Linked DNA regions of Homo sapiens: regions 2, 3 and 4 are each linked to region 1. The links come from fine-mapping of genetic effects on gene expression. A gene starts in region 1. Each other region holds a variant in brackets. All regions are shown on one strand. Distances are between the middles of the regions.

Region 1 (8,106 bases):
AAAGAAAGAAAGAAAGAAAGAAAGAAAGAAAGAAAGAAAGAAAGTGATTCAGTTACAAAGAGGCCATTAGAGTTGGTCTTCATCTAATCTGACTGTTTAATTTACAAGAAAAGGAAATATGGACACACAAAGAGACCCAAGGATGCACACAGATAGAAGAAAGATACAGCAAGAAGGCAGCCGTCTGCAAGCCAAGGAGAGGCCTCCAAAGAAACCTATCCTGCTGACACCATGATCTTCTACCTCCAGCCTCCAGAACTGTGACGAAATCAACTTCTATTGTTGAAGCCATGCTGTCTGTGGTACTTTGTAATGGCAGGCCAAGCTGACTATCAGGCCGTTGGAGCTGGGGAGGACCAGGTGCCTGAAGGAAAGTGTCAGGATGAAAGTGGACGGAAGGCCAAAGCTTTCCAAGCCTAGGTTATTCGTAGAACCATAAATGGGTGACTTAGCCACAGTTCCCAGGAGGCGTGTCTATTCACGGGGGACTGGAGGGCAGTGCCCTGAGTCTAAGGTTCCCTTTGATTCTTAAATTTCCACAGCACATTTCCGGAAGCCAGCCTTTCACATTCCCATCTCATTTTACGCCCACCCACCCACCAGTTGTTGGGGGTCACAGTGGGTGGGTGGTCTGATGTCTGACTTGGACTCCAGATCTCGTCCGGGTATAAACTGCAGGCTGAGAATTCTTGGGAAGCCTCCAAGGCAGGACCACTATCTGTGCTCTTCCTTATCAAAGTGGAGTCATTTATATTTTAATGAGATTATTTCCCAACACAACAGTTTATCTTTCATTTCATTTATCCCTTTGCCATCTGGTCCCCTTATGTTTGCATGTAGGGCTAGTGGCTTTCTTTGTCTAAGTAGATTTGTCAATAGTTTATAAATTTTCTTCTCATGATCATAATATTTATTTTTCACATTAGACAGACTCTTCTGGAGTCTTGGAAGAAAGAGATTTCTTTTTTTTTAATTTTAATGTCATTCTTTAACCTGTAATTTTTGTTTCTGGGAAATGTGTTTTCAAAAAGTAATTAATTAATTAAAATGAATGAGCAAAAGTTTCCAGACCAATATATTTTCTGGTTCTATTTGCTACTGGATAACCCTAACAAATATTTTACTTAAGGGACTAAATCAAGCTCGCCTAATAGCAAATGGTACAGATGCAATGAAAGTGGCCTAGCTTCCCTCTAAACTGAAATCCAAATCTGGGCAAATTCTATGTTCTGGAGATATTTATTTTTATCTGTTTTCAGTCTCTTGCTGTAAAGTTCTTATCTTAAAGCTACTTAGCTCCTCTTTTTTTGGCCCCCTCCCAATTACTCTTGGCCTTCTTAATTACTAATCCATCTCTTTCATCAGCAAAGTTGATGGACTCTATTTACCATCCGATTATCTTAAGTTTTTTCCTCCAAGACAGGGCTTTGGCATTCCAGTCCTATTCTAATGGCTGATGGCACTACATACCTCTCAGGTGCCTGGTGGGAAGGCCAGCCATGCCCATTGGCCTTGCCTTCTCTTGACCCAAAAAGCTCCATTAGGCCAGAAAATAGCTCTGGCCTATTCCTCAACATATCCCCAGCACCAGCCCCTGCCTAGTACACACTGAGTGTTCAATAAATAAATGAATGAACTGCCTTGTTTTCTAACACACCAACACATGCAATAATATAAACAGAGACTGAAACATGCTTTATAGGTGAAATACAACAAAAGATTGATGTTCAGACCTTTCTGAGAAAAAGTGATTAAAAAATCAGCAATATCTTTTATTCATATGCTTCGTAGTTTCTAAGGGGCTTTGAATCTCCTGTGAGATTTATATCAACAACCCCATTTTAAGGACAAAGGAAGCCTCACAAGAATTTTGTGAGATTTAAATAAATCATGTATGTAAAATCCTTACCACAAAGACTGACATGTAGTAAGAACTTTGGAAACAGTTGATGGTCTATCCTTTTTCTCTATCGAGAGTTTAAAGAACTAGTACATGATGGATTCCGATCCAGAAGTCAGGTTTCATGTTTCCTAGCCTGTTACACTTCCTGCCATACCTCAGTATTCCCCCAACACTGTTCTCAGGCTCTGATAGGAATATCTTTAGGGCAGCAGTCAAGACACCCTAAGCAGACCAGTGACACTTTTCTGTCCCCATCTTAAAGGGGTGGAGGAGAGCATCGTACCCCCATGATTAAAGAGACTGACATTAAACAGCTGGACTATGGAGTGTGGGAACCATGTAAGTTTAGGGGCTAGATACCCTGCAGTGATCACTTGAAGGTTCTTGTGCTGGTTACCTGCCAGCAACTCTTATACCCCGCCCTCCCAAAAAATGGGCCAGGTGCAATGCCTCATGCCTATAGTCCCAGCACTTTGAGAGGCCGAGGCAGGAGGATCACTTGAGGCCAGGAGTTCGAGACCAGCCTAGGCAACATATTTTTCTCTACAAAAAAATTAAAACTCAGCTGGGCATGGTGGCACGCCTGTAGTCCCAGCTACTCAGGAGGCTGGGAGGATCACTTGAATCAGGGAGGTGGAGGCTGTAGTGAGCTGTGATTGTGCCACTGTACTCTAGCCTGGGCAACAGAGTAAGACCCTGTCTCAAACAAACAAGCAAAAAATGAAGTGAGGCTTTTAAAACCTGGGAACTGAAGCAGAAAGCCATGCATCACTAGAATACAGTGATACCGTTCAAGCTTCTCTTCCATATAATAAATGCATCACTGAGTTGCCATTAGACTGCTATGCCAATGATGAATGATAACACTGTGTCCCCTGTGGGCGAGGGGAACCTGAATCCATGCATCATTTTGAGATGTGGCTTGAGGTTTTGGTCTGGCATGCCCTTTCTCTGGATATTTGAGAAAGGCAGAAATCATTTAAATAGCATCTCATTTTCCAAAGCCCATCTTCTAAAAGTCATGCTGATTTCACCCTTTCTTCCCTGGCCTTTTCCTTAGTACCATCTTCCTGAGGATACAACTGGCCCACTCATCAGCCTTCTAGGTAAGTGGCACAGGCTCCAGCTACCTTAAGTGGACTACCTGGCTTCCCTGCTCACTGATAGGGTGTCCTGGGACCAGGCACTCGAACTCGGTAGGGTTTAGTTTCCTTGACGGTAAAATAGAAAAGTAAGCCTGTTTCACAGCACTTCCCTGAGGATCAAATGAGGCACAGTTTGAATTGTTCCCACACAGAGTAAATAAAGGCAGGTTCCCTCCTGGCTGCAAGATAAAAAATGGGCAGGGGAATCTCCCTTGAAGAACTGGCACGCTCCTTTCTTTCAGCTAATGCCCACCAATATGTCCATTGCTGTTTGGGGTGCAAGAAATTTTAGGCTCAGTAAGGACAATTCCTCCCAATGGTTTGGATAGGGCTGTCAGAACTAAATTCAAGTTGTTCGAAGTCTCCTTCCGCCCGCCCTGCCAACTTGCCTCCCTCTTCACCCTCCTAATAGGAGGTGAGCCCCTCCAATAGCGATCATTAACTCACCCTAAGGTTATCCCCTTGCTGCAACAACCCGTGAATTGCAGGTTCATTCAATGCTCTTTAAATTATTTTTAAAGGCTTTTTTTTTTTTAAGTAGCAAAAGAATGCATGACACCTATTGTAAACTGGCAAGTTGAGGGGGTGGGATGCCGCTCAGACGTGTACTGAGAAAGGTGATAATGAATTTGGCGTCAGCAATTCTTCAGAAACTATAAGAAAACACCCAGGTGTTCGAATTGGTCCCAAAAGGGAAACAAATCCTTCCCAGCTTTCACGATGCGCTGAGGTTGGTTTTCTCAGTGCTCCTCCCAGATCAGGAGGTGGGGAACCTCGTGGCAAGCCCTGGGGCTCGGGATTCCCGGACTGTGGGCCTGGGGGAGAGAGGCGGCTCTCGTGTGCACACTTACCCCGCCCCCACAACACACACGCGGTCACGCACCACAGACGGGCACACGCGCTCAGCACAGCCACAGTCGCGTGCAACCAGGAGTGCACACCGCACCCACATCACACCGCATGCACAGACGCACGGGTGTGAGACCACACACCTCGGCCACTCACGCTCACACGCCCCCCACGCGCTCGCACACGCGCTCGCACGCGCACTCCCCGCGCACCGCCGCGCGCACACGCGGGTCCCGCCGGACGGCGAGGGGCGGGGCGGGCGCGGGCGCAGGCGCGGGTGCCCAGCCGGGCGCGGTCGGGAGAGGGCGCGGCGCGGGGTTCGCGGCTGGCGCTTGAGTTGTTTGCCGGCTCCCGGGCCGCCAGACGCTCGGAGGGAGCCCGGCCGGCTCGGACTGGGCGGCCGGGAGGGAGGGCGCCCCGGGTCACGACGGCGCCCGCAAGCCGAGCGCGGCCGGGACGTGCACCATGGACCCAAAGGCGGGCGGCGGCGGCGAGGAGGACGACTGCGTGGACTCGGGCGCCGAGACCGGAGGGTGAGCCGCGCCGGGCCGGGCCGCGGGCGGGGGGCGCTCTCCGAGTTGCGCGGCGGCTCCTCCCCGGACGGGGACCCTCCTGATCCGTGCGACGGGACCGGGGCGCGGGGCTTCTCCTCCTGCCGGATCCCCCGCTCTCTCCTGGGCGGGCCGCGCTGCCCTGGGCAGGGCGGGCACCACCCGGGGGGAGGAAAGTGGAAGGACTCAAGGTTCAGTGCAAGCCCACCCATCCTGTGAGGCGATGCAGAGCGCCAGGCGGATGCAAAGACCCCTTGTCTGCATCGCTAGAGACAGGAGATGCTCTTGCACTTGTTTCCTCCTTCCTCGGGGACTTTCCTCCTGTAGCTCCGGAGCCCCCTGGAGTCCGGCCCTGGAGATCGGGAGAGGAAGAAAAGCAGGGTGGGACACCCGCACCTAAAAGTCTTTCCGAAGTCGGCTAGGAGGATGGCATTTCTCGTTATATGGCTTCATCGTGGGACTTTAATCTGTGCTGCCGAGTCCCCCTCCCCGACTCCTCCAGTCCCGCCGAACTTCCTCACCTCTAAGTGCACCTGTCCCAGCTGGACCCTTTGGCCTGTTGTACCGGCGGGATGGAGATGGTGTTGGGATTAGGATCTAGCCCTGCCTTTTTTTTTTTTTAATATTCTCTTCGCTTCAGCGGACTCAAACAATGGGCTCAAACCTTTGGAGACTAATTAGTTAGTCTCCAAACACTGTTTTCCTGAGCGGAAGAAAAGACAAAATGCCTTTTAGGAGATGAATGTCGTTATAAAGGCTTCCAGGCAGCCTCTGTCTCTAAAGGACTTTCCTGTGCAGAGTCAGCACCACATCCAGGCCGCGGGTACTGACCCAGGAGGAAAGGGTGTTTTTTCCTATCTGGAGTAATCCTGGGGGAGGGCGGGAGCTGCCTAGACTACAGAAAGCCTCATTCCTGGAAGGTCGGAGAGGTTTTAGACTAATCTCAGGATTTGGCAACCCTGTGAGGGCAGGTAGAGAATCCAGGCCCACGATCGACCCAGAGTTCTAACCCAACCCCGGCAAAGCTCCCCACAGGGCCCCTCCTGCCCCACCACTCCTAGCCCAAATGCGGGACTTTACTCCCTAGGGCATTCACCCAGCAATGGGCTTTCTCTGTTATCCAAACTTATTCATAGCTCTCTACAGCACCCAATTATAATCTGGTGGAGTAACCTGATGCTAAATGCCAAACTTCCTTTCTTCTTCCCACTCTTTGTGTAAGTGGCATTTATCAACTTTAACAAGATTATTGGCTTTTTTTTTCTGCCATTAGTTAGCTGGACCATGAATAGAAGAAACAAAGCAAAATTAACCAGCTTATTTGTAACTGCGTTAAATAAAGCATTCACTAGTCTATTCATTTTCAATTTGCAGAACTCACCTAAAACTGATATTTTTTTCAAGGGCTCTGTCTTAGAGAAGGGAGAGGAAGTCCTGGACCCAGGGGGTGACATCGCCCCAGGATCTGGACATCAGCATGACAGCGGCCAGGCCTCCTGGGAGGGGCTCCCCACTCCTGCTGACACCAGAGCTTCTGTTCTCAGCCTCTGTCACTAAAATGTGTAGTTGTAACAGGACAGAATTGTTTAAAGAATTCTTGGCCAGGTGCGGTAGCTCGCGCCTATAATCCCAGCACTTTGGGTGGCCGAGGTGGGCGGATCACCTGAGGTCGGGAGTTTGAGACCAGCCTGGCCAACATGGAGAAACCTCATCCCTACTAAAAAATATACAGAATTAGCCAGGTGTGGTGGCGCATGCCTGTAATCCCAGCTACTCGGGAGGCTGAGGCAGGAGAATCGCTTGAACCCGGGAGGCGGAGGTTGCCATGAGCTGAGATCACGCCATTGCACTCCAGCATGGGCAACAAGAGCAAAACTCCATCTCCAAAAAAAAAGGAATTCTTACTGTATCACTAGTATCCTTAAGCTAAAGGTAAAATAGCATGCATTTCAATGTATGCTAATTAGTTTTGTGTTTGCCATATATTCACAGAGCCCTTGAATTTCAGTTATCAAAAAGCTGTTCATCGTTTCCCTGCTTTTCCAGAGCTTGCCCCCACCCCTTACCCTATCCAGCTTTCACAGAGATTATGTAGAAAGCACATAGAAGACAACAAGTGTTTGCTATCGTTAGTATTTTTAAAATGCAAATCTGATCATGTCTCTCCCTTTCAAACTTTTATGGCTCTGTTATCTACAAATGCAAGGAATTTAACGTGGCCTATATGCCCTGACTCCTGTTATGGAGTCCCTTCTTCCCTCCCTGGCCTTGTTTCTCAGCAGGTCCTTCTTTGCGCCTTGTATTTTTCTGTTTCCTCGCCTTTGTCAAGCTGCCCTCTTTGCCAGCTCTGCCCTTCCCACCTGACTTGCCTGTCTGCCAGGTGAAACTCTACTCTTCTTTCAGGACTCAGCTCAAGTGACACATCTGCTAAGGCAGTGATCCTTAATTTGGGGTCCATGAATTCCTTCAAGTTGTATGCAAAATGATGTGCTTTGTGAATTTGTATGAGAAGAGAACTTTTTTTTTTTATCAGATTCTCAAAGTAGCTGGTGATCTATTCCAAACCAAGTTTGGGCAAGATATGAGACATTTCATTTTCAACACACTGTGTCTGAGGTGTTGCAAGACATCCAAGTAAAGATGATGAATCAGCAGTTGGGTATATCTGTCTGGAACTCAGAAGGGAGGTCTTCATGATGACATTGCATTTGGGTACTATTTACCTAAAAATGGCAATGGAAGCTCTGGGAGAGACTAAATCAACTGAAGGTAATAGCAAGCACTTTCTTAGCATTTAGTATGTGCCACCTACTGTTCTAAGCCTTTATGTATTTCATGGACTCCTCGAATCCTTCAACAACTCTGTGCAGCAGGTGCTTTTTAAGACCAGCCTTGAGAAACTATATTTAAACGCCCAGTCAATGAGAATGAGCTGATAAAGGAGCCTGAGAAAGAGTAGACTTGGAGTCAAAGAAAGAAGAATATGAATCATTGAAGCCAAGGGAGGTTTGAGTTTTTGAGAAAGGAAGGAGAGATCAACTATGCTACTGAGAAACTAATGAAGATGAGGAACGCTAAATGTCTTTTTTAAATGGAGATGATGAAGTGAAGGAAGAGTGGTATTTCACAGCGGGGTGGTGGAGGCAGGAGCCAGATTAGAGTGGCTCTAGAAGGCAGTAGAAGGTGAAGAAAAGGAGACAGGTGGATTCCTTTGTCTGGAAAAAGGAGAGGCAAAAAGAGGCAGTAGCTAAAGGGGAGAGTGGAGTGAAGAAAGATTTCTTAAATATAGGTGCTAATTGAGCAATCAGTGTGATAGAAAGGATTCTATAGAAGGGGGAAGGAGAAGGAGGAGAAAAGATGATAATCTGTAATGTTGCTTGCTTGCTTTCTTTTTTTTTTTTTTTTTTTTTTTTTTTTTTTTTTTAACAGACAGGTCTCTCTGTCACCCAGGCTGGAGTGCATTGGTGGAATCATGGCTCACTGCAACCTCAAATTCCAAGGCTCAAGTAATCCTCCCACCTCAGCCTCCTAAGTAGCTGGGATTACAGGCCCGCACCACCGACACCATGCCCAGCTAATTTTTTTATTTTTATAAACACAAGGTCCTGCTATGTTGCTCAGAAACTGTCTTAAACTCCTGGCCTCAAGCAGTCCTTCC
Region 2 (8,106 bases), 68 kb before region 1:
ATATAAAACCAGTTTTAAAGAAGCTTCCCTTTTGAAGTGCCATAACAGAATTGCACAAGAATTATGGACAAAATTATGTAGACAAAAACACATGATCAGCTTTTACTGCTGACATTTTCATTTACTGTGGTGTCGTTTGTGGGACCCCCACATTTCTCCAGAATTGGGGATATTTTTTAACAGGCAGCCCTTGGTCACTTGGTCACAGTGAAAACAAACATCTTTGAGCACTTGGTCATTGTATGTCACAATTTTCAAATTTACAGCCACCAGCGTATCCTACTGGGGCGACTGGGGGAATCAATACTGGGCTTTATTCTTATTATATACTTGGAACAGGTTCAATGTAGTCCCTTAGGAAGTAATATTAGAACTTCAATCACACGGGAAGGGAGGCTTTAAGAAAGTTGCTTCTGTTAACACACTCCTCCGTCCTGGTCACAACCAAAACATATATATTCAGCCCAAATTTGGCATAAATTCTGCGTAAATTATATATACTTTCAGCAGTTCTACAAACATTTTTCAAGAAGACTGGCTGTATAACAGAACCTCTTTCTTTCCAGAAAGCAGCTTTGGCCATCCTAAAAAATGCAGTGGACTAATCCAGATGAGCCCATCAATTTGCCTAGGGGTCACTGCTTGTGCCACCAGAAAGATACTCGCAGAGAGACCCTCAACAACTGGGGCTATGTTGTTCCATCCCAGAATGAAAACTAAAACTAGAGCTGCATTAGCACTTGCTGAGGTAAACTGAATTCCTTGGTTCTATGCAGATCTTGCCTGTGTATGGATGACTAGAATCAAAAGGCTACCAATGTCTTCTGAGATGCCAGAAGTCAGAAATAATCCCAGCTAAATGAAAAATACCAGAAATGCTACCAAAAAAATTGGCCACAGCAAGTACAGAGCTGTAGAATCTTCAACTCTTCAGAACCCCCCTGGCCTGAGCTGTGTGCATAAGGCCAATCACAGGCACAAATTCACTCTATAGACACTAGTCAAACATTGTAGTAGACAGAATAACAGCCCCTAAAGACGTCCACACATGAATCCCTGCAACCTGTGAATATGTCACACCACATGGTAATGTTACATATGCGAATATGTTACACCACATGGTAAAGGGAATTAAGGCTGCTAATCAGGTTAAGATGGGGGGATTTTCCAGATTATCTTTCTTAAAAATGGAAGAGGGTGGCAGGAGAGGGCAGAAAAATGAAATGTGAGAGAGACTCAGCACACCATTGCTGACTTTCAAGACAGAGGAAGGGGCCAGAAGCCAAGAAATGCAGGTAGCCCCAAAAGCTGGAAAAGGAAAAAAAAAAGAAAAAACAAACAAACAAACAAACAAAAACTCAGATTCTTCCCTAGAGCCTCTAGAAGGAACTGAACCCTGCGGACACCTTGATTTTTAGCCCAGTGAGACCTGTGTTGGACATCTAACCTAGAGAACTTCATATTGCTTTAAGCCACTAAGTTGGTGATGATTTGTTCCAGCAGTAATAGGAAATCAATATAAGCACCTTCTATGACCAGGCACTGACCCTGCCAATGCAAATATGCCCGGCATTCCAGAGACACATAGTCCAGTAGGGAGAGAAAATTCTGCACATGCAGGTAAAGCAACATGCTATGCACTAAACATGCATGTACCAAGCCCTGAGGGAGCACTGAGCTGATGGTGCTCCCCTTTGCCTGGGGGAGCCAAGGAAGGCTTCCTGGAGCAGAGGAGACATTTCAGCTTAACCTAGAAGCCTGATAGAAGGGGTCTGTACTATTCTGGACTTACATGGTCCCAGGGCCTTTTATTTAGACATGAATGCTGAAGAAGGAAGCAGTTTTTTATTGTCCAGGCTGGTCTAGACCCTTGATCCTCAAAGTATGGTCCAGGAGTCACGTGGGAGCTTGTTAGAAATGCAGAATCTCTGGCCCAGCCCAGCCCTACCAGGAGAGAATCTTCATTCTAACAAGATCCCAGGGGATTCATAGGTGCATGACAGTTTAAGAATCACTGCCCCAAATAACAATATTCTCATACTCACCACAGTGTGGAAAGAAAGAAACAGGTTCCAGAAATTGTTTACATATGTAACCCTGATAGCATGGAGGTCCCTCAGAACATTCCTACTGCTATGTGACCATGCTTAGAACGGTGCACTCCAGCTCTGTGTCGTTTCTCAGCATCTACATAGACATCACATACACCATCAGGCTGTACGTCTCCTGTGGAAACATTTAGCAGGCTTTATTTTATAAACACTTGGTTACAAACATCACCCAGTTCTTCCATTTATTTATTTTTTAAGAGATGGGGTCTCACTCTGTTGCCAGGGCTGAAGTGCAGTGGCACGAACCTGGCTCACTGCAGCCCTGACCTCCTGGGCTCTAGTGATCCTCTCAGCTCAGTTTCTCTGAATAGCTGGAACTACAGGTGCATGCCACCATACCTGGCTAATGTTTAAATATTTTTTAGAGATGGGGTTCTTGCTCTGTTGCCCAGGCTGGTGTCAAACTTCTGGTCTCAAATGATCCTCCTGCCTCAGCCTAACCCATTTCTTTTTTAGAAAACACAACTTCAGCTCTAGCATTCTGATAGTGCAAAGTTTTTCTCCTGCTTGATGACCTCAATCCCAAAATAATTTACTCTAACAGCTAAATCTTCAAATCACTGAGCCTCAATTTACTTCTACCATCAGTAAAAAGAGGTCAGGGTGGCTCTGGCAAACCTAAGCCCTAGTCCTGGGAAATCCACAGATAACCCTTTAAGGCTCACTGGCTTAGTGACTCAATCCCTCCAGCCTCTTTGCTATGCTCGAGCCACATGTCTGCTGGCTGTGGATCCCATACATGCAGAGCTGCGTCATGTTCGCGGGCACCCTGGGGACACCTGCTGCGGGGTTGATGTTTTGTTATGTTTCTGCAGCACAACCAGGGCTGGCTTCTTGGGGACTGTATACAGTGCACTTGCCCAGCCCCACACACAGAAGGGATTGAGGTTTAGTGCTCTGCAGTGGCAATCTTAAAACTCTTAATGATTGTATCTTTGAATTAATGTTTTGTAAGTCAAGTTATGTGCCAAAGACTTGGAGCCTCAGCTCCTGCCATTGCACCTGCCGCCTCCCTAGCAAGGGTTCTTCAACACCCCCTCCCCTGTCCTGCCAAGTGACCACTGCCCCTTTTTCCTGCTCCCTCCATAGGGTCCTGCTGAGCAACCACTGCCCCCTTTTCCTGCCCTCCTCAGAGTGTGGGAGCCAGGCATGCACCCCCTGCATGCCCAGGGCATCAAGATGAGGTCCTGGGCACCTATAAGTGTCTGCACTCACCCAATGCCTATGCTTGTGCCCAAGGGAGTGTGACACTCAATACCAAATAAAAAAACATGACAGAGAGAGAGAGAGAGACAGAGATAGAGACTGTGAGAGAGAAAGCTTTTCTCCTACTTTAAAAAAAATTGTAGTAAAAATTATGTAACATAAAATTACTCTCTTAACCATTTTAAGTGTACTGCTCAGTTGTGTTAAATACATTCACGTTGTTATCAACCCATTTTCTTGCTTTCTGTTTTTTTTCTTTTTTTTTTTTTTTTTTTTTTTTTTGGAGACAGGATCTCGCTTTGTCGCCCAGGCTGGAATGCAGTGATGCAATCTCTCAGCTCACTGCAACCTCCGTCTCCTGAGCTCAAGTGATTCTCCCACCTCAGCCTCCCAAATAGCTGGGACTACAGGTGCATTCCTAGCTAAGTTTTGTATGTTTAGTAGAGAAAGGATTTCGCCATGTTGTCCAGGCGGGTCTCAGACTCCTGGGCTCAAGCAATCTACCGCCTCGGCCTCCCAGAGTGCTGAGATTACAGGATTGAGCCACCATGCCTGACCCAACCCATCTTCAAAACTGTTTTCTTCTTGCAAAACTAAAATGTGATACCCATTACTCCCCATTTTCCCCTACCCCCAGCCCCTGACAACCACCATTCTACTTCCTATCTCTATGAATTTGACAACTCCGGTACGTCACACAAGTGAATCATACAGCTTTTGTGTTTTTGTGACTGGCTTATTTCACTCAGCATAATGTCCTTGGGGTTCTTCGTGAGTAGCATGTGTCAGAATTTCCTTCCTTTTTTAAGCTGAATAATATTCCATTGTGTGTCTATGTCACATTTTGTTTATCCATTCATCTGTAGATGGACATTTAAGTTCCACCTTTTGGCTATTGTAAGTAATGCTGCCATGAACACG[G/T]TATGCAACTATCTCTTTGAGTCCCTGCTTTCGATTCTGTTGGGTATGTTTGGAAGTGGAATTGCTGAGTCATAGGGACTCCTGCTTTTTGAACACACATTTTCATTTTGAACTGGGCTGTTTAAATTATACAATTATACAGCTGGCTCTGCACATGCCCAGTTAGGGTGCGTATGAATCACAGTGTCGGAGGACTGTTCTGCTTCAGCCAATGGAACTAAGGACTAAAGACTTTCCATGTTTGACCTGATAGTGTCACCACCAGAGTGGAGCAAGCGAGAAAAGTAAGAGACTGAGCAAGAGTGCTCACCCTCAAGTGTCCCCACCAGTCAGAAGCAGCATGTATTGACATTCATGGCTGTAGAACATTCTGGAACTGGTTTTCATTTATCAATGCATGCATTATTTCTTCCAATGCATATGTATTAAACCTCAGCTACGTGCCAGACCTCGTTGAAGACACTGAGGATAAAGCAGTAAACAATGCATGGAAGGGTCTTCCATGCAAGTCAGACAAGTAAACTAATTGCACATTCGACGGTTTCTTGTGAAAAGTTCTATAAAGGGGAAATGTTGGGCCCTGAGCCCAAGGGTAGAAAGCAGGCTGTGCATGAGTCACTGTCCTGCTTTTAAGGGGCCGGTAAGGTAGGACAGGAGTTTCCAAAGTGGTACGTGAGATGATCTTAGGTAGAACGTTTTATCTTTTCTTTTTAATAGGTACATATTCAGTTTAACGTATGTTTAGAAATATATATCTAATACCTCAAACCCTCAATTCTTAACTATCTCCTGGATGATGCTCAATTTAAAAAGGAGTTCATGTAAAATGAATAAATATAAGCTAAATATTAAAGCCTATTATGTTGTTATTAAAATAAATAAATAATGCAGGAGCTACATGAATAAGACCTAAACATTTAAAGATTGCAACTCAAAAAAACTACATTTTGGAAACTCCTTGTGGGTTTTAAAGATAACTTTTTTAATACAGACATATTTTTAAGAAGAGTATAACTAGGGCTAAGATACAAGTAAGTCCATGGGGAAAGGGAAGCAGCTGTGTTTGAGAGGAGCTCCTAACCCAATTTAGGGGATTCAAGAAAGGCTTCCAAGAAAATTGCTTCATGCAATGAATTTTGTTCCTTGAATTACTCAGTCCAGGTGTATTTGTGTGAACTCTTCAAGTATGAGCGCTGGAAACCCACTACAGCCAGTTTAAGCAGGAGGGGTAATTTGCAGATGAGGATGCTGGGTGATCCCACAGTGGCTCAGGCCTCAGAGTGACCCACCTCTCTCAATCTCTGCTCCTGGTCCCCACTCTTATCTGAGGCTCTGCTTTACCTCTCACACTCGCTGCACACTTCCTTTCTCAGTATATTTCCAAGTGGACAAGATGGAAAACGGCTACCGCATTCTTCTATTTATATCTCTTCCATTCAAAGACAATCTCAACTGATGTTACCATTTCTTACTTCCAAGTCTTGACTTCTGGGGAAGAGACTCTGGTCAGGCATCACAGGTGACCTCAGAGGCGGGGTCTTGTTCACACAAGGACAACTGTCACCACGTGGTCAGGGAGGGGAAAATTACCAGAATCCAGATGGGAATGGGGTTGGAGATCCAGGCAGAAAACCTGATGGCACAAGCTGGAAAAGTCCTCATTTCAACAGCTTCCAGACTCCCCTGTGCCTGACATCAGTGTAGGTAGGAACTGCCAACAAGCCTGGAACAACATTTTCTCTTAGGCCACCTTGAGGATACGGGTGGCAGGAGAGATCTGGAGTGACAGGGGACCTTGACCCCACCCCCGGCCTGTAACCCAGGGGTTCTCTTGGGGAAGAAGGAAAGCAGTCCCATGGGCCTGCCACGTGCCTAGGATTCGGGGCTATGTTAACCCATAGGAGGGAGGTAGGGAGCAAACAGTTTGGCTAGGCCTATATTTCTACTTTATATCCCAGAAAATAATGGGATTTGGCCCTTCCATTTGAAAGCCTGTGTCATTCAACAGAGTAATCGGTAACACATGTATAGCTCTTACTATGTGCCAAGTGCATACTGTGTTCTAAGTGTTTTACACAGATTAACTCAAATAACTCTGTGATACATAGCTGCCACTACGCCCTTTCCTGAAGATGAGAAAATTAAGGCACAGAGAGGTCAAGGAACTTACCCACATTTACACAGAAAGGAAATGAGGAGCTGGAACTCAAACCCAGGAAATCTGTCTTCAGAGCCTATGGTACTGATCAAAAGGCCACACAGACCAAGGTTAAAATCTTGCTTCACCCCTTACTTGTTATAAGGTCTCTTTAAACTATTGATTCAGTGATAAAATGGAACAAAAGACACCTACCATATAAGATTATTGTAAAGACTAGTGGAAAAAATCGGTATCTACAAAGCACTTAGAACTGAATAGGTACTTGATCAGGGTAGTTACTATTGTTAAGGAGAGATAAGGAATCTGAATATTGTTCAGCTCTCATGGGCATCTGGTGATGGGGTGTGTCCCCATTTTCCACACTGTAATTGTCTGCCTAGGCCAGCTCTCATTCAGGCCAGTTCACTCTGTTGCAAGGGAATAATCCACGCAATTGTTACCCAGTGCCATAGGTGGCTGAGTACAGCTTCTCGTATTACATATCTTCACATCCTGCTGAGCAACAGCACTAGTGGTGCTTTTTCTATAGTTATTTAAAATTTCAGTTCTCCTTAATTGAAGTAGAGCATACATAAAGGGCACAAATTGTAAATGCACAGCTCCAGTGTTATATGTGCAGATGTCCAGATCCAGGCCTAGAACACTTCCAGCACCCCAGAGGCTCCCTCTGCCCTTTCCCCATCAATTCCCACACTGGCCAGGAGCGGTGGCTGCCGCCTGTAATCCCAGCACTTTGGGAGGCCGAGGCGGACGGATCGTTTGAGGTCAGGAGTTCGAGACCAGCCTGGTCAACATGGTGAAACCCCATCCCTACTAAAAATACAAAAATTAGCTGAGCGCAGTGGTGTGCACGTGTAGTCCCAGCTACTCTGGCAGCTGAGGCAGAAGAATCACCTGAACCCAGGAGGTGGAGGTTGCAGTGAGCTGAGATTGTGCCACTGCACTCCAGCCTGGGCGACAGAGCGAGACTCCATCTCAAAAGATAAAATAAAATAAAATAAAATAAAATGAAATAAAATTCCCACACCAAAGAGGTGGCCAATGGACTGACTTCTATTGCCTTAGGTTCATTTTGCCTGCTCGTGAACTTTGTAGACATGGCTGGATTTGTACTGCCAGTGTTTTTGTAGGCACTTCTTGCCTTCTTCTGCCATGCAGGTGAGTGAGCTATTTGTGGCCAGCGAGCCTTTGTTGAAACCCCCTTTGTTCCTTACTGCACCCCTACACACGCTTGTACAGGAGCAGACCATGCCAGCATGAAGAGGCAACCAACTGGTGTTTTTTTAATGTTAGATAAATAAAGCAGGGTCAACAGAAGCCTCGTGTATTGTGAAGTAATAAATATTCACTAAAATTCAGAACTTGACAATTAAATATTGACACCTGTGTTCTGGCTCTCACAAAAGATTTAAAATCTCTCAGAGGATTTGTAAGTGGCAAGAGCAAGGAAAGAGGAAAGAGGAAGGCGTGCAGCCTTAAAGTGAGTTTAGGACAAGCTCAAGTCACCACCCTTAGTGACAGTACCAAAAATAACGTTTTTAAAAAACAAACAAACAACAACAAAAAACCAGGCTTTGCCACATTATTCCCAGGCCTTACACAGTGGACTTTGTGTACATTCTTGTATTCATTCCTTCAATGACTAGATATTATTCCCATTTTGCAGATGGGAAAATTGAAACTGAAACCAGTTAAGTAAATTGCCAA
Region 3 (8,106 bases), 55 kb after region 1:
CATTGCACAGAGTTCTATAGACAGCACTGCTCTAAGAAATGACACTTGGATAAGGGTAAAACCTCTTTTTTTCCCCCATTATAAGCTTTGTAGAACTAATGTGTACTTTGTTTTTAAAACTCTGTTTACATATCAGTTTATAAAAATAAAAATTTAATTCAAAAAATGATAGGGAGGCATTCCCGCAGAACTTAGACCCCCAGGTTTATGCAAGGGCATTATATTTTCATAATACAAAAGTTTAGCAGCAACTCTCACCTGGGGGCACTTGGCATCTCTCCTCCACCAGGGGACATTTGGCAATGTCCTGAGGCATTTTTGGTTGTCACAACGGGGAGGTAGCCAGGGTGCTATTGGTATCTAGTGGATAGAGGTCAGGGATGCGGTTAAACATCCTCACAGGACAGCTCTCCCAACAAGGAGCTATCTAGCCGAAAATGTCAATTGTGCTGAGCTAGAGAAAACTGAGATTAAACTGAATCTCCAAGATTCCAGTCAGGCTCGCAGATAGATATGCATGCATGTACTTTTTCTTTTAATGAGACAGGGGCTTGCTATGTTGCCCAGGCCGGTCTCAAACTCCTGAGCTTAAGCGATCCTTCCACCTCAGCCTCCTGAGTAGCTGGGACTACAGGCGTGTAACATTGCGTTGGCTTAATTTTTTTTTAACTTGAATCCTTCAGGCTAGAATGCAGTAATTAGCTAAAGTTCAGTCCCACAAGCTAGCATTATACCCTCAGTGCAATAGAAAATTACATTGGAGAATTGAAGAAATTATCTGGATAATTCAAAAACAAAATACTCTATCTCTTGTTGTTCAAATAAAGTAAGAATGAGATTTTTAACCTAAGTTATTGTTAATTGTTTCTGTCAGCTCCTCCTGGTCATTGAACTATGTCACGGGATATTTCTCTTTGGAAATTTCTTAAAATCAATGATACTTAATGAAACTCTGATGATCCTTTGTTAATATAAAAATCAGTTCTGTCTACTCCTGTGTTTTACAGCCAATGGGCAGGGTAATTCACAAATTACACCAAAAATAAATATTCGGGGAAAGATGCAGAACTTATACAAAGAGAAAGCTTGCACCTGGGCATGATATTCTTTCAAGTTTTACAGATTCTATCATTAGATTTGTTGGCGCTAGCTCCGGGTCCTCAGCTGTCACTTTGATTTTCTCTGTTGTTCCTCCTTAAGTGAATAGCTTTTTAATATACATCAGATCAATATCCATGTTGTTTCCTAGAACTTCTAGGTGCCCAGCCCTTTTCTGTTTATTAATAGTATCTCCTAGGATCCTTGCCACATTTTCACAAGAGTCACTACTGATACAGGTTGACTATCCCTTCTCTGAAATGCTTGGGATCAGAAGTGATTAAGATTTCAGATTTTTTTGGATTTTGGAATATTTGCATTATACTTATCACTTGAGCATTGGAAATCCACAATCCAAAATGCTTCAGTGAGCATTCCTTTGAGCATCATGTCAGCACTCAAAAGGTTTCAGATTTTGAAGCATTTTGGATTTCAGATTTGGGATTAGGAATACTCAACCTGTATTAAACAAAGCTGGTCCCTGAGGCAACTACTCAGATATTTTTTTATTTGAAAAGTTGCTCTTTATCATTAGATGTTGCTACTGCTTTTCCCAAAAATATCAGAGTCCTCATAACTTTTTTCTGTTAAAATCAAATAATATTTATTGGTATTTATGATTTATGATATATAGGCATATATCATAACTTACACACATATAAGTACCTTAAAATTACCTTAAGTTATTTTAGAAGATATGTATTTGTATCTCACATGTATTTTTGTATTTATTCATTCAGGAATATATTGAGTGCTTGCTATGTACAAAACTGAACATTTGTTTAAACACATAATTGCAGGATCAGATGTCAAGCAACCCAATTTCTAAAAGCCTCACAGAACTAAGTGAAGATTTAACAATTAACCCAGTTCCTCTAAATATATCAATATCTCCTATTTGTTGGAGTAATTTGTAAGCTCAAGTACAACTGAGAATGATAGGGACCTAAAGAATCGTGGCTTAATCAAGAGTGGCTTATTTTCTGTCCTCCCTGTGGTCATCCACAGTACTCAGGAATCCTGGTTCACAATGGCTACTGGATGCAGTAGCAAAAAGTTTTTAAAATAGAGCAAGGGGCCAGGCATGATGGCTCATGCCTGAAATCCCAGTGCTTTGGGAGGCCAAGGCAGGAGGATCACCTGAGGCCAGGAATTCAAGACCAGTCTGGGAAACATAGCCAGACCCTGTATATACAAAAAAAAAAAAAAAAAAATTGGCTGAGCATAGTATCACATGCCTTTAGCTCTAGCTACTCAGGCAGCTGCAGCAGGAGGATCACATGAGCCCAGGAGTTTGAGGCTGCAATAAGCTATAATCGTGCCACTGCACGCCAGCCTGGGTAACAGAAGGAGGCCCTGTCTCTAAAGAAATAAAGAAATAAACCAGAGTACAGTAAGTACCAGCCTTAAAGAAAAAAAGATAAATGACTTTAAAAAGAACTTCTGTTCATCAAAAGATACCAATAAGAGAACAAAAAGGTAAGCCACAAACTGGCTGATGATATTTTTTGCAATGCATATATCTAAGAAAGGTGTTAAATCCAGAGTATGCATAAAAAGCAGGCATGTCTCTAAAAGCAATGCCTAAATAGCCCATAAACATCTCATAAGATGCTCAATATCATCACTCATCAGGGAAATGCAAATTAACAACATGATGAAATGCCATTACCCACCAGAATGGCTAAAATTAAAAAGAATTACAATGCCAAATGCTGGTGAGGACGTGGAGCAACTGGAATACTTATAAATTCCTGGTAGAATTATGTATCGACGCAACCAATTTGGAAACTGACAGTATCTACTAAAGCCGCAAACATGCTCATGCTGTGGCCCAGCATTTCCACTCCTGGGAATATACCCAAGAGAAATGAGTGCATGTTGTTCACCAAATGAGGGGAAGTGGCCAAATGAGGCTTCACAGCAGCACCTTGAATTTTGTCTCCGAAGATGGCAGGTATTCTCTAAGTGCACAGACACTGGGAGCACCATGTAAAGTCATGGAGATACAAACGAGCATGAGGTGTTTGGGAGCATGGTAGTTGTAAACTGCTGGCGCACATGAGTTAGGATTCTAGAAAGACACAAGGCTCAAGGGGTAGGCCGGGTCTTGTAGAGCTTGCCAAGGAGTGAGTTTTGCCAAGGAGCTTGTTCAGGTTTGACTTTCAGAGAGATCACTCAAGAGGTATGCGGGGTGAAGCTAGGGAGGCTAAGTAACTCTTGGCAGGAAGCCACAGGGGGTGCTAATTATCACTTTGCTGCCATTTTACCAATTTGGGGGAATAAGTACTTTTACCCTGAATTATACTACCTGCCATTCTATGCAGAGAATGGAATTGGTATGTTGCTATAACTGATGATTTTCCAGAAAGCCTTACACTTCCATAATAGCGACAGGAAGAGAAGGTAGACAGATGACAATCCAGCAAGCATTTGCTCAACCGCCATCCTGTCTAGCTCAGCATCTCTTTGACAACTTTCAAACTTTCTACCAAAAACATCACTGATTTTACAAAACGTGTACGGGCTTTGTCCATTCTTAGGGTGAACTTTGCCCTTTCCATCCAAATCCTCTTCCTGTACTGACCATTCCAGAAAGACAACACAGGCTTTGCCCATGGCCAGCATCCTTAGTGAGTGTGTGAAAACCACCCAAAGGAAAGGGAAAGGAAAAGCAAAACATGGTATTTTTCTTTAGAGCAAGACTCTGATTTCTCAATGTGAACCCGTTGCCCAATTTTCTTGAGACAGCCCCAAATTTGTATTAGTCCCTGTGTTAAAATGGCCATCACGGGCTCATTACACAGCAGACATTGTCACACTGCTCATGTTTCTGCCAAGGAAAACACAAGAGGAAATGATCTTACTGGGAAAGAGGAGGTGTGAGGCTGAGGGTAAAGTCCCTGACCATGAACAAATCATGAGACTCTGCCAGGGCTCCTGGGGGAGGGGCAGAATCACCTTTACTAGCGATTTAAGAAGAAAAGATTCTTACCAAAAAGATAGCTGCACTCGTATGTTTATCACAGCACTGTCCACAGTAGCAAAGATATGGAATCAACCTAAGTGTCCATCAAGTGGATGACTGGAAAAAAAAATGCGGTATATATAGCATGGAATACTCCTTAACTATAAAAAGGAATGAAATCACATCTTTTACAGCCACATGGTTAGAATTGGAGGTCATTATCTTAAATGAAATAACTCAGAAACAGAAAGTCAAATACCACATGTTCTCATTTAGAAGTGAGACCTAAACAATGGGTACACATGGACATGCAGAGTGGAATAAGAGACACTGGAGCCTCCACAGGGTGGGAGGGTGGGAGGGTGACCAGGGGTGAGGGCTGAAAATTACCTATTGGGTGCGCTGTTCACTATTTGGGTGATGGGTACACTAAAAGCCCAGACCTCATCACTATGCAGTATCTGCACATAAGAAATCTGCACTTGTACTCCCTAAATCTATAAAAAGTAAAAAATTAAAGAGAAAGAATTGGCCGGGCATGGTGGCTCACGCCTGTAATCCCAGCACTTTGGGAGGCCGAGGCGGGTGGACCACGAGGTCAGAAGATTGAGACCATCCTGGCTAACATGGTGAAACCTTGTCTCTACTAAAAATACAAAAAATTAGC[C/T]GGGTGTGGTGGCACGTGCCTGTGGTCCCAGCTACTCAGGAGGCTGAGGCAGAAGAATCACTTGAACCCAGCAGGCAGAGGATGCAGTGGGCTGAGATCGCGCCACTGCACTCCATCCTGGCGACAGAGCGAGACTCTGTCTCAAAAAAAGAGAGAAAGGATTCTATCCATGTGCCAGGGTATGAGCCTCTTGACACCCAGATCCTTGAAAAAGATGCTTTGCCTCAGTGGTCCGCCGCAGACCCCTTCGCTTCCCCAGTTGCAAACTGTACTCAAAGGTGCAGGGAAAACTTTTGGATCAGTTACTGAATTCCAATTTTTTGGTGACTTTAGGGACATAGCCAAATTTCCCGGGCTGGTTGCCTTAAGCACATTAATTTATGTGATGCTATTCTGTTCCTTAGATAAAGTTCCTTAAATAGAAAGAAGGGAGCTTCTGGATTCCAGGGAGGCAGCTAGCCTGCACTGCTTCAAAGAGAAAGAAAGGAACGAGTACATCGCTGCTGTCACTTGGAGCAGCTCAGGAGGGCAGCCTCCAAGAGCTGAAAGCCAGGGGGAGGCTTCCATGCGAGGAGGATTCAGGTTCCTGTTTCACTCTAAAAAGGTCCACTGAGGAGGAGTCTCTGGAAACATCTAAAGTAACTCCCTCCCAGCCTCTAGTGTTTCTGGTCAGCAGACAAGCACACAAGGGAGGCCAGAGATGGAACCACCACCAGGGGAACAGCACATAAAGGAGCTCCAACCTTCACAGGTGCGGGTTGTCTTTAAATCCAACAAGACCCCACTTTTAGAAACTGACCCCTCTGCCACTGGACAGAGCCAGAGAATACCACCAGATCCGCCCATATGCAAGCCCTGCAGTCACATCAGCTCCAGGCCTCAGGAGCGATGTGGAGGCTCCTCAAGCACCTGCCTCCTGCTGCCACCCAGGATTTCCTGCCATTATTCACAATGCCATATCAGCCTCAAATTCCGCCCACCCAGCAGGCAGCTCCACTGTGCACGTGGGCACCCTCCAGTGAAAAAGACCGGGTACCATCTCTCTTCAAAGCAGCAGAATGTAGGGTTTGTCTGGATTCCTACCTTCGTCATGTGGTAAAAATAAGAGAATACAGGTAGATTTCTGTTAAACAAGCACAGTCGTGAAAATCTCTGCAAAACTACACAGTGTTCATCCTCCATCAGTTGTGCTTGATTTTAAGCCAAATTGAACAGTGCCCTATTCCCTGACACTGGGAACATTTAGACGTCCCCTGGCATTCCTTGCATGGGAACCTTGACCTTCTGCTCCTCATAAAGCAACCACAAAGGCTTCCTTTTTCAGGCAGATTCGGACTGCAAAATTTTTCACCAAGTGCATGTTCTCAAATAAGACTTTGAAGACAGAAGTTACAAGGTGATGCATACTTATCAAGAAAGAAAATGACATTAGGGCACCCAAAGGAATTGGCCTTTGGAAAAAATAAGATAGACATTTGAATTAATAAACATTGTCCCCCTCCCCCGGAAACAACCTCTGTACCCAAGGACTTCTTTCTCTAATAGCCTCATTTTATTTTCTCTTGACTTATTTTCTCTTTTATTCAGCCAATTCAAATGATTAAGAAAATTGGTTTGTTTCCCCAGCAGCCACCCAGCTGTGACACCTCTTAGGCACATCTGAGCCTTTTGGGGCTGCTCCTTACCCCATCCCAAAGGGGTGACTCTCCATTCCTGCTGGATGCCGAGAGCCCTTGTAGTAAACCCCAGTCAGAACCCTTTTCTTATTGCAGGGATTTGTAAATCAGGTACTATTAATATATACTAAGTCAAGCCAGACCGACTGCCCCCAAACCCATTATTTAATTGAAACCTTGGATGCATAGTAAGGTTGGCCTTGGGTTCTGGCCTGTATGCTTGGACACAGACCAGAGAGAGAATCTGAGAGAAGCAGACCCTGGTGCAAATGCGCATTGGAAGAGAGGTCTCCAGTTCTGCACAACAGAAACGGGTTACTGGTGAGCTGCAGTGAGGGCCAGGGAGGGCTGCTGGACCAGGAGGATAGGCTGGGATATGACAGGGCAAAGCTGCTCATCCAACCCCTGCAGGATCCGCAGGATCAGTCAGCAGGCGGCAGCTCCCTTTCCTGTACACAGTTCCTGAAAGGTAACGTATATAGAGGAATCAGTAGTTACTAGCAACAAGTAGATAAATGCTAACCCCGATAGCCCCTCACTCATGGAGGATTTACTGTCTGGAACCATGGACCACCCCACCCTAAGACTGTGTCCTGGCTATCATGCATATACTAGAATCACACCCCATGTGGATCTGGTCTGAAATTGTCTCTGCATAGCCCATCCTGATCACTTCTGTCCTCTCATCAGTAACATTTACAAACAGTGTCTATCAGGTGAGCACACTGTGATTCTTTGGTTGGAAGGAAAGAAACCCTGCAAGCATTCTTTTTGCATTTTGTGATAATTCTTATCTCCGTTATCCTGCTCAGCCAGGCCCATGTTCTTTTTGCCAGTTTGTTGAGCGCAATGGGCATGTGTGCTTTAAAAAGTATTCTGTATTGTGATAAGGAGCTGAATCTCCTCCTAGCCTCGGAGATGGCTCCTCAGACTGAAAACTCTTTCTGGTGCTCCTCAAAGCTCTGCTACCTCTGTCTTTGCTCTAGAGATTGCAGAACTGGTAATGCTGGTAATGCTTTATTGCCATGACATTGCCAGGAGTTTCCAATGATTGGTAACTGTGTTTCCTGATGCATTTAACAATTCCCATCCTGCACTAATGTGATCTGCCTCTCCCCCCACAGGCACAAAGGGTGCATAAGAAGTTTCCTAAACCTGGCAGAGTACATCATGCCTCCGAGAAGAAACGTCATTCCACTCCTTTGCCGAGCACTGCTGTACCAAGCCATACACCTGGCAGCAGCCAGCAGTCCCCGCTCAACAGTCCTCACCCGGGGCCCATCCGGACAGGCCTGCCTCCTGGGCACCAGCAGGAATTTGCCGGACGAGCCAACAGCACCCCCAACCCTCCCTGGTCTTTCCAGAGAAGCAAGTCCTTGTTTTGTTTGCCCACGGGAGGCCCCTCCCTGGCCTCCTCAGCTGAACCACAGTGGTTTTCAAACACAGGTGCCCCAGGGCACAGGGCATCAGAGTGGAGGCATGGCCACCTCCTCTCCATCGATGACCTAGAGGGGGCCCAGGAGACAGACGTGGACACAGGCCTGCGGCTGTCCTCATCGGACCTGTCTGTGGTCTCTGCATATTCTGCACCCAGTAGGTTCTGCAGCACAGTGGAGACACCCCTCCCCTCCGAAAGATGCAGCAGCCACTGGGCAGCTCACAAGGATTCCAGGGAGGGACCACTGCCCACTGTCAGC
Region 4 (8,106 bases), 23 kb after region 1:
ACTGACTGTCTTACCCATCCTTAATTTTCTAGTCATGTCCAGTAAGTTTGTTCTCCAAATGGGCCCAAAGTACACATTTTCTAAGGAGACTTAGAAACAAGTACCGGAGACTTGTCAGTGTTATATTAAAATTTTCAAAATATTTGAATATTCCACTGAATTTTAGGCCAAAAAAAAAAAAATGAGTCCCCAGGCTCCATCCACTTCCTACATTGCTCGTTTGATCATGAGCAAAGCCAGTGCTGGATTTCGTCACTGCTGCATCTACTGCGTTCAGGACGTGTTTTATAAGCACATATGCAGTGGCTTTTCTTAGAAGAGTTGCAACGGCTAATCATTATTCATCTGATTTCTCAATATCCTGCCAGAATAAGTCCCTTTTTAAGATAAATCTTGACTAATATAATTGTAAGGATTCCTCCCACGAGCTCTAGTGTAAGACAGAGGCCTGGAGTTTCCTGATGAACAAATCCTTGGGATAGGCTTAGGCTAACATCTTCCTCTTTTGTCTTTTTTGTTTTGTTCTTTTTGGTAGATTTCTTTCATTTCCTAATACAAGATTAATATTAATTCTGTTCCTCTTGTTTCCAAGCCCTGCTCTGTCATCTCTGGATCTCCAGTATTTGTTGAGATCCTGACTTTCTCAGGATGACTTTGCTGCAAATGCAAATGACAAGCACATAATGTGGTTTAGAGAGAATTAAAATTACTGAGTAGAAGAAAGGACTCTGTGTAGAATGCTATAGCCTCTTCAGGCATTTTGAACCGTCAAATTTTTATGCAAGAGGAGTCTTAGTACATCATTAAGCATGGTACATTGCTGGGTGTCAGGCCTGCATTACTTCTCATAAACTTTCAAAGTCCTTGCAGTCCCAGGGACTTACACACGTATGCTAGATATGTTTAAGTGTTTCTAGCTGCAGTTATACCTCCTCAAACTAATTACATATCAACCTTCTGGTCTTCTCCCAGAATCTCTGTCAAGCTGTATCAGGATTTAAAGTGTCTGTCATTCCTTTGGTTGGTGTCCGGCTTTTGCTCCCCCTCCTTTTCCTATCAGGAGAGTATGTTTCAGAATGATGGACCTGAATGAAGCTTAGAAATACATTTAAAGTAAGATGGATGTCCCATTTCCAAGTGGAAAAAAAAACCGGCAGGGTATCTAAAGTATCTGCCTTACTTTCTATATATTTTTTTCTTAATAGTGTCCTGGTTTTAGAATGAGCTCAGGAATATGAATTAGACATCCACATCGCTGACATTGTTCCTCCAGCAAATCATAAAAAAAATGAGAGGGCGGTCGAATAACTGTTATAGCAAAGCCACCCTTCTTATAAAAGCGTGAGAGGGCCTATAGACCAGAAAGATCCTTTATTGTACTCCTCTGCCAAATGAAAATATAAGTTTTAGCTTAATCATTTCAGCCTAGGTTCAGTTCTTCAATTACAGGACACTTCTGTGAAATCAGGCTGAGGAAGAACCTTATGATCTATATTATAAATGCAGTTTGGATCTCCATGTTAAAAATCCTATATGTCACTTCACTGCCACCACAGGTCATTATTTCCAGCACTGCAACCAGTCTCGCCACTTTCACAGCCCAAAATTGCAGGCCAACAGGCCTTGTCAAAATTACAAAATTACCAAGAACAAAGTCTGAGATTTTGTCTTAAATATTGGTGGAGTAAGGGAGTTGCTTACACATTTTTCATTAGTTCAAAGTTTCAAAGAACTGGCTTCTAAAACTATGAAAAAAAGAGATGAAGGCAGGTTATTCATTACATTCCGGATGAATAGCGTCTCCCAGGAAGGAATTTGGAGGCCCCTTTCTGAAGGCATTTGTTTCTGGCGTTCTGGGGAATGCCTCAATGTGGGGAGGCTAGCCCTCTGCAAGTTTTGTGTTCAGCGTCACCCAGAGCCTTTTTCCCTCCTGCTTTCAGACCTGGTTGTTGGTTTTTTTTGTTTGTTTGTTTGTTTTGAGACAGAGTTTTGCCCTTATTGCCCAGGCTGGGGTGCAATGGTGTGATCTCAGCTTACTGCAACCACTACCTCCAGGGTTCAAGTGATTCTCCTGACTCAGCCTCCCAAGTATCTGGGACTACAGGCGCCCGCCACCACACCCGGCTAATTTTTTTGTATTTTTAGTAGAGACGGGGTTTCACCATGTTGCCCAGGCTGGTCTTGAACTCCTAACCTCAGGTGATCCACCTGCCTCGATCTCCGAAAATGCTGGGATTACAGGCTTCAGCCACCACGCCCAGCCCAGATCTGGTCTTTATTCACAGTGTCAGCCGGTGCCCTGGACATGTCTTTGTTGTGTGTGTGACGCACCGTCTCACCTGAGTTTTCTGCCACTGGATCATGTGGGTCTGGTTGGCAGACCAGTATCCCAGCCCCCAAGCCACTCAGTGCCGTTGATGGGGGCTTTAGAAATGCAAATAAGTGTTTATTCAACCTTATGCAGCTCTCAAGCCAGGCTCCAGGGCCAGATTCCTAAACCAAACAACCTGCAACAGCTGGAGGTGCCCTCCTTCACAGTCTGTTGGCCTCGTCGGGGATTACTGGGCACTGCAGTGTTGGCAGTAATTTTGGCACTGGAATGGCGCACAGCAGTTTATTCCGTCAATGGTAAATTGTTACAGCCACTGCCTTGGAAACCACGTTGAGCATGTGTGTGTTCAGTGAAGTGTCTGTCTGTAGGACTTAGCTACCCGGCTTACATCTTATATATTTGTTTATTGTCTGTCTCCCTCACTAGATTATAAGCTCTCTGAAGGCAGAGACTGTTTTATTCACCACTGTATCCTCTAGTGCCTGGCACATGGTGGGTGTTCAGTAAACATTCTTTGATTAAATAAATGATGAAACTAAATTGCAAATTGTCAGTGACAAATTGTGTCTAAAGTGACAATCATATTAATCGTTGCCCAAAAATTCTAGAAAGGGGTACCTGAGCTTGTCATATCCTGAGACTTGTCCAGGAAGTTCTTTTGGAATGAGAGATCTCTTCAACTAGACATGCCCACTGCTGGGGAGGGGGTGCTCTGGGGACACACCAGTTGGCCAGTTCTGGGAGGAGGGCTAGTCTGGCAGGCACCGGGCAAGCAGTGCAGGCATGGCTGATCTAAAGCCCAAGACTGCAGAGAGTGGTTGTGAGGGGCCCTGGCGCAAGCAGCATTGAGGTAGGTCCAGCACCCGGAAGTCTGTCAACAGGCAGACTGCCCTCTTCTTCCGAAGACTCCAGCTGAGGATGCCCACCCAGGCGAAACAGCCAGCCCATTCACAGCAGGCTCTCCCACCTAAGGTGGGTGAAGGAGCTAAGCCATGATTTCAGAGCCCCAGCCAATTTGGGGCAGAAAAACCAACGCGATGATTCCAAGTGAAGTGGCATCGTTCATCTGGGATAATACCCGAGGTTTGTTGTCTTCTGCCAAGGAAATCAAGGATGTGGACACACAAGGAGTGAGATTAAGAGCAGAGCTTTAATAAGCGAAAGAAAGAGAAAGGCTATCTCCTGCAGAGAGAGGGCTCCCAAGCAGGTGTCTGGTCTGCCACAAAATACTTAGGGTTGTGTAGATGAGCTTGAGGAGGTGGTGTCTGATTTACATAGGGCACAAAAGATTGGTCGGACCAGGTGTGCCATTTGCATAAGATGCAAAAAACTGGTTAGGACTAGGTGTGCCATTTGCACAGCATGTGAAAATCTGGCCGCCCCCCACTTTAATCTTTTATTATGCAGATGGATTCTCCACCTGGCGGATGCCATGTTGCCTGTTCCTTTACTGTACACACGGTGACAAAGAAAAGGGAAGATGGAGCCTCCAGGTTGAACATACCTGGCCCTCAGGTAGCCCTTTTCTATTGGCGCAGCTTCCGGCATTCATCTGTGCAAGCTTCCAGCTTGCTTATCTACATCTACAGCTCGAATTTTCAGACTGCTCTTTGTTAGAAAAGAAATGATTTGGGGGCTGCTTTTTTGTTAAAAGCAAAATTCTGCTAAGGGCTCTTTTATACTCACTATGTGCCTAAATAATTTCTTTCCATCTCCTGTATCACGAGGATTGTGCCCTTGAGTAGTGAGAGGACATAGTGGTGAGGAGCACAGATCCGGGGTTCAGACAGCCCTTGCTGTTCTCCAGGCAAATGGTCTTGAGCAGGTCAGTTAGTAGTTCATCTATCATAGTGTTGCTTTAAATGAAAGATTAAATGAGATAGTATACATAAAGCTTGTAGGACAATGTCTGGCAAATAATAAGAGCATAATAAATGGTTGCTATTGTCTAAATTAATTTTCTGTTAAATTTAAATGGCCAGAAACAGGATACACAGGAGAGGTAAAATGTTGGAAAAAATATATATATAACAAATGCCCAGGCTAATAGTACACTTTCTGCATCATAGAAGGCCTGAGCTTGTACACTGCTTTCTTTAACACTGTTTTCATTTTGTGTTATCAAAGGAAAGCCTAATTGTCTATAATCAAATGAAAAAGAATCTCCCTTCTCCTTAGGAAAACACAAACTAATTTGAAAGCCTTGTTAATGGTGTGCTAGCAGCTCCCATCCTCCCACCAGCCTTGGGGCAGTCTGTGCCACTGCTCTGTTTGGTTCTGGTCTGTGTTTTACCATAATTCAA[C/T]AGGTGCTCGCTAGGTCCTTTGAGAAGACATGTAATAGATATGATAAAGGCAGAGCACATCCCACAGTCATGTCGTCTGTGTTTCTCCAGGGAGGCATAGAGACTTTTCGTGGCAATTAATTATTCACATTTTCTGTCCTTCCCCTCAAATGCTTGGTTTCCTATCCAGCTCCACAGAGGCATGTTTCTCGTGGGGTGGGGGGGGGTGTAACTCTAACACCTGATGACAGCTTGAAGCTGCGTTCTGTGTTCTTTGCTTGTGTTTTCAGGTCATGTGCAGCGGGTACGTGCTAGTGATGGCCAGAGCATGCTAATGCCACTGCTCATTCTCCTTAGCTCTTCTGGGGCAGGGTCTTAGCCACTTACATGTCCCTGGTTCAGGCAGTGCAGAGGGGGCTCTGGGGGTCGGGTCTTCGTCATCCTGGCTCGCCTGCTCTTGGCTGCCTCCCAAACTGCCAGGCGAGCTGGTACTTGGTGGAATGCCTTTCAGCTCACCCCCCTGCTCTGAGGCCGGGCATTTCGCCCTTCTGCAGAGCTGTAAACATTCACTCATCCATGCAGACTTCAGCATGGTCTTTGTTACTGCTCTCAGGGAAACCTTTGTGTAACTGATAGAGATGGCACAGGGCTGAGCGCCCTGACAGCTCCACTGGAGAGTCTCAGAAGCCACCTTCTCCCGGGCCTCTTCACACCCAAGCCTCTCACGCCATGCTATAGGCTTTCTTGGGTGACTGTTATGCATTCCTTTCACTTGTGCACCCACCTGTGGTGCTGGCCTGTTTGAGTTGCCCTCGAGGGCACTGCTGAGATGTGAAGACCTGGGCATGTGCCAACAGGGAGGGCAGTTTCTAGCTTATTCTTCCTCCAAGACCTGGGGCCAGAGGAAAGAAATGTAAGTGGGTGTCCAAGAAATGAAGCTGTTGGCTGGTGGCTGGGAATGAAGCCAGTCAGAATGAGGTGGGAGAGCCGTGCAGAGGGGCCAGGCGGGAGCTGCCGTGGCCACACATGGATGGAGAATGGCAGCTGGCCACTCTGCTGTGAAAGGGATACAGTGGAGAGGCGAGCACACTTCTCTGCAGAGCCTGGGCTGATGGTGCACACGGAACTCGGATACTGGAGCTAGTGCTCATACTCTGTGTGACCTTGGCAGGCTACTTCACCTCCTGTGCCTCAATTTCCTGGTTTCTAAAATGGGGACAATCATAGCACCTCCCCTTTCTATGGTGGTTGTAAGGATTAAATGAGTTCATACATGTAGAACATGGAGAAAGCACCCATGTTAGCTAACATGTCACCCTGTGTACCTGGCCACATGCACACCTGGGGGTGGGATTAGGACCTTGAAGGGACTTCCTGGTGGCCCAGGCAGCTTCTTTTCCCAGACTTTCCTTTACTTCGCATGGTGTTTTTCCCCCCTCATTAAAATCATCTGTCATTTTTTTCAGGTAAAATTCTTGACCCCTCGTTCAAAGCCTTTCTGTCCTTTTCCATTTACATGGAGCATTCACTGATGCTTAGCAAAGTCGCATGTCTCCACTGTTGGGAGTTCAAGGCACCAGAGAAAAGTGAAATCCATTTAGATGATGTGGTATTTTCTCCTACTTTTACTGGAGTTACTCACTGGCAGAAAATTTCATCGCAGCTTTACTACTTTTGCGTCAACTGTACTTCTGCCGATCGTGTCATGAATGTTCAACCAAACCGAAAGAAGCCAGGCAGGCAGAAAGGGCAAGCAAAGAAAAGGGCCAGAATTATCTCTGAATTCTGATTGTGTTCCTAGCCATCATGATGAATTTTCATGATTCAGGTCTATATGGGGGCACACGCTTATCAGATAACTGCATACAAATGAGAATATGATCTGAAAGTAACTGGCCCATCCTTAAATTCAGCCCTTCACCTAAGCAACACAAAGATCCAGTTGCCAAAGGACATCTCTCCTGGAAGTCATTTGGGCATCTCAAGCCAAGTGGTCAAGGTGGAACTTTCTGTCTTTTCCCACAAATCTGCCCTTCTTCCTCTATTTCCTATTTCAGTTAAACATCACATCAGATCACTTGTTCAAGCTGGAAACATCAGGGTATATACTCCTCTCCAACTTTTCCTACACCCCACCCACCAGGCCTGTGGGCTTCCTGGCCTGCCATTTGCATCTTTATAGCCTGTGAATCCATGCCTCTTCTATTTACCCACTTGACTGACTGTCCTGGATCTGTAAGTACTGCTGGGTAACAGCCACCTCCAGTCTCAGTTTCAGGCTTGAAACAACCATCATTATTATTTCCCATTTGTCTTGGATCAGCTGATCTAGACCATGCTCACCTGAGTGGCTCTTGCCCTGCGTCTTTGGGTGTGAAGTTTGGCTGATCTAGGGCAGGCTCAGCTAGAGTGGGTCTGTTCCATGTGTCTCATCCCCTTACTGGGACCGGTGGGCTCCCCCAAGTATGTTCTTATGGAAATGTTGGGAGCACAGGGAGGCAAGCCAAAACACATGCCACTGCTGTCTCTTTCTCCTGCCCAAAGCTAGGCATATAGTCTCATCCTAAATCAAAGGGTGGGGAAATACGCCACCCATTTAGTGGGAGGAGCTACACAGTCACATGGCAGAAAGTAAGGATACATAATAGGATAAGGAACTGAAGCCACTAACATAATCTCCTACTCTGCCAAGTCCTTGTCATCTCCTGTCTGGACTCTTCACTAGTCTTCTAACTCCTTATTTTGCCTATAGCCAACTTTCCCCCAACTTGATCCTGATACCCCTTCATAAAACCTTCCTTTGCCCCTTATCAACTACTGAATTGAGCTGAGGCCCCATACAGCTTGGTTCTAATCCATTTTTCCAGCTGCATCTGTTGCCATGTCCCAGAATTCCCCACGGCCCCCTTCCAAATGTGCTTGTTTTTTGCACAGTTCTATACCTTCGTAAACACTTCCTAATCTCCTCAGCATTTGAGGGCATCATGAGCAAGAGGATGTGTTCTGCCTTTACCCTTCAAGACCCAGTTCATTTGGTGCCTCCTCCAGGAAGCCTTCTGCAGAGCCCTCCTTCTTTTGTCATATGTAGTAAGTTGGAATTGCTCTATGCTCATATTTAACTCATACAAATTTGAGAATACATGCTCAGCCAGCAGGAAGGAAAAAGAGGGAAGACAATTTAAAGGATTCCACTTGCCATTCTACTCCATGAATGTGGAAAGCTGAAACTTGACTCCGCTCTTACCTTAGTCATCCTTAACTTCCAGAAGCCTCTCAGGTTCCCAAAAGCCTCTTGTAGAGTGAAGGGCAGGGTTTGATGAGTAAGGGTTCAGTGTTTAAAGAAACAGACTATTCTCTTATACATGGCCCTGCAGCAAAATGGTTATTTTATGTGGTGTTCAACTAAAGAAACATCTATCTGGCCATCTTGTCTTGTTACAAGTTAGTACTTTATTGGAAATTTAGGAGACTTTCAGTGTTAATCGTGTCTAT

Direction of the effects. Positions count from the first base shown, and alleles are read on the strand shown. Sizes are in standard deviations (SD) of each study's normalised expression. Not every link is listed here.
For the expression in cerebellar hemisphere of the gene that starts at base 4,259 in region 1, C is the low allele of the variant in region 4 and T is the other (small effect, 0.35 SD a copy in GTEx).

What was found. PIP is the estimated chance that this variant, and not a neighbour inherited with it, causes the effect. A credible set is the group of variants that fine-mapping cannot tell apart.
Region 2: its variant is the best candidate, but not a certain one, in a credible set for the expression of FAM124A in monocytes (Quach 2016, PIP 0.77).
Region 3: its variant is the best candidate, but not a certain one, in a credible set for the expression of FAM124A in tibial nerve (GTEx, PIP 0.68).
Region 4: its variant is the best candidate, but not a certain one, in a credible set for the expression of FAM124A in cerebellar hemisphere (GTEx, PIP 0.83).

The regions. Positions count from the first base shown.
Region 1 is chr13:51,218,140-51,226,245 of GRCh38, forward strand. FAM124A (family with sequence similarity 124 member A) reads left to right here and starts at 4,259. Exons shown (of 4, transcript NM_001242312.2): 1 at 4,259-4,430. The coding sequence starts at 4,363. RefSeq lists an enhancer at 3,407-4,197 and silencers at 3,978-4,027, 4,148-4,207.
Region 2 is chr13:51,150,058-51,158,163 of GRCh38, forward strand. It overlaps a transcript of C13orf42 not described here. Among named protein-coding and RNA genes, the nearest start is that of C13orf42, 43 kb to the left of the region's middle. The variant G/T (reference allele first, on the strand shown) is at 4,239.
Region 3 is chr13:51,272,917-51,281,022 of GRCh38, forward strand. FAM124A (family with sequence similarity 124 member A) reads left to right here. Exons shown (of 4, transcript NM_001242312.2): 4 at 7,534-8,106. Among named protein-coding and RNA genes, the nearest start is that of FAM124A, 55 kb to the left of the region's middle. RefSeq lists enhancers at 7,184-7,840, 7,841-8,106. The variant C/T (reference allele first, on the strand shown) is at 4,734.
Region 4 is chr13:51,241,573-51,249,678 of GRCh38, forward strand. The region is part of intron 2 of FAM124A (family with sequence similarity 124 member A); the gene reads left to right. Among named protein-coding and RNA genes, the nearest start is that of FAM124A, 23 kb to the left of the region's middle. RefSeq lists enhancers at 1,580-2,169, 2,170-2,758. The variant C/T (reference allele first, on the strand shown) is at 4,636.